Linked DNA regions of Homo sapiens. The protein of the gene in region 1 purifies or fractionates together with the protein of each later gene. This does not show direct contact. Each region holds a gene or a part of one and is shown in the gene's direction. Other genes may lie near its edges. The genes, in order: NPAS2 and EDRF1.

Evidence for each region.
Region 2: the proteins of NPAS2 (region 1) and EDRF1 purify together in Homo sapiens (affinity purification with mass spectrometry; one large-scale study listed by BioGRID and IntAct). This does not show direct contact.

Annotation. Positions count from the first base shown.
Region 1 is NC_000002.12:100,993,916-100,997,332, forward strand, and holds the end of NPAS2 (neuronal PAS domain-containing protein 2), read left to right. Parts: intron 1-508; exon of another isoform or gene 509-665; intron 666-1,484; coding exon 1,485-1,667; 3' UTR 1,668-1,880; coding exon of another isoform or gene 1,881-1,901; 3' UTR 1,902-2,914; downstream 2,915-3,417. UniProt on the Homo sapiens protein: Transcriptional activator which forms a core component of the circadian clock.
Region 2 is NC_000010.11:125,757,465-125,761,250, forward strand, and holds part of EDRF1 (erythroid differentiation-related factor 1), read left to right. Parts: intron 1-3,786. UniProt on the Homo sapiens protein: Transcription factor involved in erythroid differentiation. Involved in transcriptional activation of the globin gene.

The DNA of each region.
Region 1 (3,417 bases):
CACATTTAGTTAAAGATCCATTAACCTGCCTTCATAAATACAGTGATGTGTGAAATTGGGCTTGCCAGGAAAATTTGGAGCTCATTTACATGTGGTCACTACTTCGAAGGCAAAAATTACTTCAAGCAAGTGCCAAGTATGTCAAAAGCAGGGAGGGTGAGAGCCACTGGTCCGCAGGTTCACGTGGGAGCCACACGTCTGCGTCTGCCAAGCTGCAGAAGGGCCTGGCCTTCCCTCACCCATGTGCAGGGTGCCCCTCTTCACCCCAGCCCTTCCCTGTCCTGGGGGGGCTTCCTCCCTGGCCTGCAGCCCCACCTGCACCTGCAAAGCCATGGAGAATGAGCAGTAGCTGAGACCTCTTGAGTACTGTAGATAGTGATGAAGATAGCTGTCCTTGAAGTTCTAGAACGTAATTTAATTCCAGTGCCGCTAAGCCATCTGTGCTATAATTTTCAGATCTCCCTGACCCCACACATAGTGGGAGTCAACTCAGACTTTGGCTTTGCAGATCTTGTCAGTTCTCGAGACCCAGAAGTGATTTTGGATGGGAAATGAGCAACAGACAAGTTTGCATGCACCTGTTGCAGACAAGATGCAGGCTATGAATACAGAGAGCGCTTCGGCCCACTCACTGCCCTTAGGGGCTTGGGGTGGGGTGCAGAGAGGTGGGTTAGCACAGAATGCAGTCAGGCTCGGATTTGGGAACAGTGGGAGTGCTGTGGTGGGGAAGCCTTTGTGGAGGAAGGGACTTGAGGAGAGGGAGGGCTCAGAAGGCACCCACTGCAGAGTCTGATGTCCAGGAAATGCCCGAAATGTGGGTGAGGGTGAAGATAAAGGGACAGTGTTCCAGCCAGACAGCCTGAGCAAAAGTTCAGGGCAGCTGTGCCTGGGCAGCTTTGAGAGCAGGGGGGTGCTGGGTTACTTGCAGGAGGAGATTTCATGGAAGGGAATAGTGGGTGATAAGACTGAAGTTTCCAAAGTCAGGCTTTGGTCAGTCAAAGCTTCTAAACTTCCAATCAAGATGCTCCTAGTAGGTGCTGGTGAATCTGGAGGTAGCTACGGGATCAGGGACCAGCAGTGAAAAGTGTACAAACTGTATGTGTGTTTGGATTCTGCCCTGTCAACTACCTGCATGTGGCCTCAGGTTCCATCATCCAAAAACATTGTGGCTACATGTAGATCATGTGCACGTGTTTACGAAACCATTCCCCATAGCCATAGCCACAGGCCTCAGTCGATTGGGCCAGAAGGTGCCCCCACTATTGGCGGAGAACTTAGCTTCAGAATTCACCCTAAGGTTCCCTTAGTCCCCATCCCCACCACACCCCCAGGTCTTGCCAGAGCCACCTCTCCCCACATGACCCCCCAAGAAAGACAGCCCTGTAGTCTAACTCAACCTGCAGCATGCCCCGCACTGCCTTGTAAGACAGTTGAGGAGCGGACATCAGAACCACCTCTGAAGCCCTTTGTTCTTTTTTTTCTAGGTACAGGCACCAACCTCTTTGCACAGTGAGCAGCAGGACTCGCTACTTCTCTCCACCTACTCACAACAGCCAGGGACCCTGGGCTACCCCCAACCACCCCCAGCACAGCCCCAGCCCCTACGTCCTCCCCGAAGGGTCAGCAGTCTGTCTGAGTCGTCAGGCCTCCAGCAGCCGCCCCGATAATGCCCCGGCACTGAAGTCGGGACACAATCAGCTTTAACCAATGGATGAGGGGGGTGGCCACAGGAGATGGGGAGAGGAGTCTGAACTAAACCCCTGGCTTTTGTGCACACTGCATACGTTTCAGAACTCCTGGATGGTAACCATCTCTGGAGTGCAGCGCTTGCTGCAGTGGAAATGATCAGGAATACTGACCGTGTTTCTCTTGCCTCCGAGGTTCTTGGGCACACTCTATAGCCATACTGGACAGGAACCAGGTGCCCCGTGTAGGCATCGTCGGTCGGTTTGCCGTCAGAGATGGCGCATCTCGCTGCATCCCCCGAGAGTACACCGGTTGCTCTAGCCACCTGCGGCCCGCCCATCTGCGCTAGCTGGCCTTCACGCTCTTGATCGTCTTTCCTTTGTATTGGAGAAGGACTGGGTCAGAGATCTGTTGGAGAGAGAGAATAAAGAGATTATTTTTCATTATTTTTAAATGGTTGTTTTTGTTTTAATTTGCACAGCTACACAGAGGAAATAACTTAGGCACTTTCTGTTTTTTTTAAAAAAATAATAAGGTCTCATGGCTTCATTTAGAGACCACAGTAACAACAGCAGCCCACCAATCAGAGAAGCTGGTTGTTATTAACCAAGCTACAGATTCACACTTTCTGGCCTAAACCCTAATGGGATGAGGCTTTTCACCCCAGGCCATGCTGGTGGTGATTTTTTAGCCCCTAAATAAAACACTGGACTATTTCCTGTTTACTTCATTGATTGCAACTACAAAGGTGGACTCAAAGCAAAGCACAATCATGCCAGCCAACATTCCAGAATTCTGCTGAGAACTCCAAGTCTGTGAGGGGAGAGGTTTTACAAGCCAGACAGGCCTGGGGGACTGCAGTCCCCAAGGAGACCCTGCCACATGCTGGCCCTTTGAGTGAGAATGCTGCATCTTTCTACATATCTTCATGAGAATACTGAGAATTGGATTTTCCTTTTCAAAATGCACTTTGCTTTTTTTGTATGTTTTGTTATGTTGAGATGTTTCTAAAGAAAAGATTTTATGTAATTATAAGATGAAGCGTAGTGAATTGTACAGCTGTTGTAATAATGACCTATTTCTATATAAAATAAAATTGTATGGCTTATGTGTAAATTATTTTGTATCTGAGATACCAGTTCCTTTTCCCAAATATAAAAGTATAAAAGTTTTCTTGTGTTTTTCTGTGAGTGAAAATTTTGTAATAAATTAACAAATTTGTACAATTTCCTCTGTCCCTTGTTATACATCCCTGCATACATCTTTTCACCAGTAATTCTTTTTTTCTAATTTCAAGATGTTTGAAGGATAATCAAAGATACGGAAAAGATGAAAGCAAGCCATCAGCTTTTTGAGCTGCAATATGTGCATCGGCCTATCAGGTTCTGATCTTTGTGTTAAAGTTTGTGCCCGAAAAACAAATGGTTTACTGTAGAAGTGACAGCAAAACAAAACAGAAAAAGTTTCTGGAAACATCTCAATCTTTTTTTTGTTTGTTTGTTTTGAGACAGCGTCTCTCTCTCTCTTGCCCAGCCTGGAGTGCAGTGGCACAATCTCGGCTCAATGTAAACTGTGCCTCCTGGTTCAAGTGATTCTCCTGCCTCAGCCTCCCGAGTAACTGGGATTACAGGCACCCACCACCATACCCCACTAATTTTTGTGTTTTTAGTAGAGACGGGGTTTCGCCATATTGGCCAGGCTGGTCTCGAACTCCTGACCTCAAGTGATCAG
Region 2 (3,786 bases), on another chromosome or scaffold:
ACCTTATACAGTTATCTTTAAGAGCAATTAAAGGGAACAGGAAATTTTATTTACCTTCATTTATTCCATTTCAGTACTCTTACTTTTTGTGTAGGTTTCTGTCTAGCATCATATTCCTTCTGCCTGAAAAACTTTTAGCATTTAGCATTTGTAGGTGTGCTAGCAATGAATTCTATCTTTTCAATTGAGAGAGTTTTTATTCTTTTTTCAGTCTTGGAAGATCTTTGAGCAGAGTATAGAATTCTGGGTTAACAGTCCTTTTCATTCAGTACTTTAAAGATGTCACTCCATTGTCTCTGGCCTGTGTGTTTTCTGACCAGAAGCCAGCTGTGTTTCCTACTTTTGTTCATCTGTTAGAAATGCATCTTCCTTGCCTGTAGGCGCCTCACCCCCCAGCAGTTTAACTATGATAGGCTTGAGTGTGTCGTGATGGCTTTTACCTCTGGCTTCAGCATTTTTCTTTCTTCTGTTCCATTCTCTCTCCTCCTCTGTAGCCCGTTATGCCTATGTTAGACTGTTTGATGTTATTCCACAGCTCTTGGATATTCCGTTCTGGTTTTTTTGATGCCATTTTTTCCTTTTTGTGATTTTGTTTGGGTAATTTCTGTTGAACTGTCTTCAAGTTCATGGATTCCTTACTTGGTTTTGTGTCATCTACAGTTGAACTTTTTGAAGGCATTCTTTGTCTCTGTTACAATGTTCCTTATTTCTAGCAATTGCCCTGGGTTCATTCTTACAGTTCCAGCTCTCTGCTGAAATCACCAATCTGACCTTGCGTGGCATCCATCTTGTCCATTAGTGTCTTGAACATACTAATTATAGTCCTTTTAAATTCCCTATGAGATAGTTCCAACATCTGTGTCATAATTAGCTGGTTCTGTTGATTCTTTGTCTCTTGGAAGTATGTTGTTTTTTCCTTGCCTTCCGTATATCTCTTGTTTGTTGAAAACTGGACACCTTATGTATGATAGTAGAGACCAAGAGAAATATTTTTTTTTTGCCTGGAATTTTTTGTACTTTCCCCCTGCTACGGCTTTAGTGTGGGAAGTGGAATTCATTTTTCTAGCCTGGAGTTGAGCTGTGGTTGAGATTTTTTTATTGCGATGGTTACCTTCCATGTACCACAGGCTTCAAGTTTTCCTAGCAGTCCTCGTGTGTAGGGTGGAACAGATCTGCAGAAGGTGATTCTTAGTGTCTTCTCTACCTTCAGCTCTAGGTCTTTCTTTTGTTTTGCACCTTAGAGAGGGTCTGTCTTTATACTCTCACAGTTCTTCCAGCCATATTCCACTGTCACTGGTCCTTCGGTGCCTTTTCGCCTGTTTGGGAGGGAGCAGGGAGTTAGCAAGGACTCCATAGTTGTTTAAGCCTCAGTCCAGGCAGACACTCGTGTCCCTGAGTCTCAGGACTGTGGCCTTCCCACTGCTCCTGCACCCCCACCTAACCCTTCAGAGTGTTTTTTTCTGTTCCCTTCCCCTCTCTTCATTGACTTTAACCAACGCCCTAAGGTTGGCAGGGTTCATTGTCTTCCCCCACCCCCATTGAGTCTTTTGTTTCATAGAGGAGAAGGGTCCAGGTGGGGTTGCTGGTCCCTCCCATAGCAGCTGCTGTTACCCTGTCATAGGTCTACAGCAGGAGGGTCAGTCTGTCAGGATTCTCACTGGTCTTTTATGTGGGCATTTGGTGAGGTCCTTGGAGAAAAGCCAGTAAGAAGATGTGAACCCCCTGACTCCACAGAGGCCCTATACTTTCTCACCAGCCTCACTGGGCCCCCACCAACCCATTCACTATTTTAGCTAAATGCTTACTGGCATCTGGCTGCATCTGCCCCAGGTAAGGAAGGACTGTCCTTTCTCTCCCTGTATCAGCCTGTCTCTCCTTAGATTGCAGGCTAGTTGGCTGCCCCACCTCTCTCATGGATTTAAGAAGAGCCATGACCTTGTAGTTTGCCCTGCTTGAGCCAGAGACTTTTTCCGGTTCTGCACCATGAATAGAAACTTCTTTCAATAATTGCCTTTGAACTAAGTGCCATGGCTTACACCTGTGATCCCAGCTATTTGGGAGACTGAGGCAGGAGAATTACATGAACCCAGGAGTTCAAGGCCACAGCAAGCTCTGATGGCACCACTGCACTCCAGCCTGGGAGACAGAGCAAAACCCAACTCTTTAAAAAAAAGAAAAAAAATGGCTTTTGAATAATTCTCTATAGTCTAAGGAGAGCTTTTATTTGGTTGTGTGTGTTTTTATTTTTATTTATTTTTTTTTTTGAGACAGAGTCTCGCTCTGTCGCCCACGCTGGAGTGCAGTGGCGCAATCTCGGCTCACTGCAAGCTCCGCCTCCCAGGTTCACGCCATTCTCCTGCCTCAGCCTCCCGAGTAGCTGGGACTACAGGCATCCGCCACCACACCCGGCTAATTTTTTGTATTTTTAGTAGAGACGGGGTTTCACCGTGTTAGCCAGGATGGTCTCGATCTTCTGACCTCATGATCCACCTGCCTCAGCCTCCCAAAGTGCCGGGATTACAAGTGTGAGCCACCGCGCCTGGCCTTATTTGGTTGTTAATCCACAGTGTCTGCACCATATCCTGGTTGTGGTACACAGCAGCGGGTGTTGATACACTCACTGTAATTTAGCAGAGACATCCATCTTTTTGAAGAGCCCTAAGGCGGAGCAGATACTGCATATGGTAACAAGGCTTGGAAAGAATTCCTGCCTTTTTCTAACAGCAGTGGGTAAAGTTTTTAAATTTGTATTGGTTTCCACAAGATGGTAATATAAATATATGATACATGAGAAAAAGTGATTCATTGATTTTTCACAAGTCAATCATTTGAGTAATTGGTAATAGGTAATAGTTTCAGTTTTATCTTTTATAACTGTAACAGTCATATGTATGACCTAAGTAATTTTTATTTTAATGGAAGGTTTTCTAAGCTTCTGTTTATTTAGGTTATTAATATTCTGCTGAAAACTATTGTAATCTAAAGTTTTCATGCATGACACATACAATCTTATTTAGCTAATTTATATTGATTTTAAGGTTTATTAAACTTAAATGTGATAATGTGTTAATAAAATAAACACTTTGACAAGTTTCAAAACAAAAATATTAATTACTAAGTCAGTGACTATTTCATTTTTCACTGATGTGCAAATGAAAACATCTATAATTTTATTGTTAAGAGGAAAATACCCTCTGCCACAGGCTTAGTTGTTTCACAGTGAATACATGAACATTCTCTTTTGCAATATAGAGAGAAATCAGAATGAGACCTAAAAGAAAGAAAATGCAATCAGCCCTCTGTATCCAAGGATTCTGCATCCACAGATTCAACCAACCACAGACTGAAAATATTAAATAAATAAAAAATAATACAAATTTAAAAAGCAATATAGTATAACAACTATTTATATGGCATTGACATTGTATTAGGTATTATAAGTCATCTAGAGTTGATTTAAAGTATATAGGAAGATGTACACAGCCTAAATGCAAATGCTGCACCATTTTATATCAGGGACTCCAGCCTCCTCAAATTTTAGTTTCCTGGAGGGTCCTGGAACCAATCCTCCACAGATACTGAGAGGCCATGTTAAACAAATTTTTGTTTTATTTTTTGACTACTGCTTTTTCCACTTCATGCCCTCTGGCAAAAAAATAAACAAGGCTTAATAATTAAAATCTTAAGTTTATTAGATTCCTATAGAATTAGAGTGAAAGATGCATTTTACTTGTTTAAAAAAAATTTTTGTTTTCATTTTCAGGTGATGCAGGCATTTCATCATCA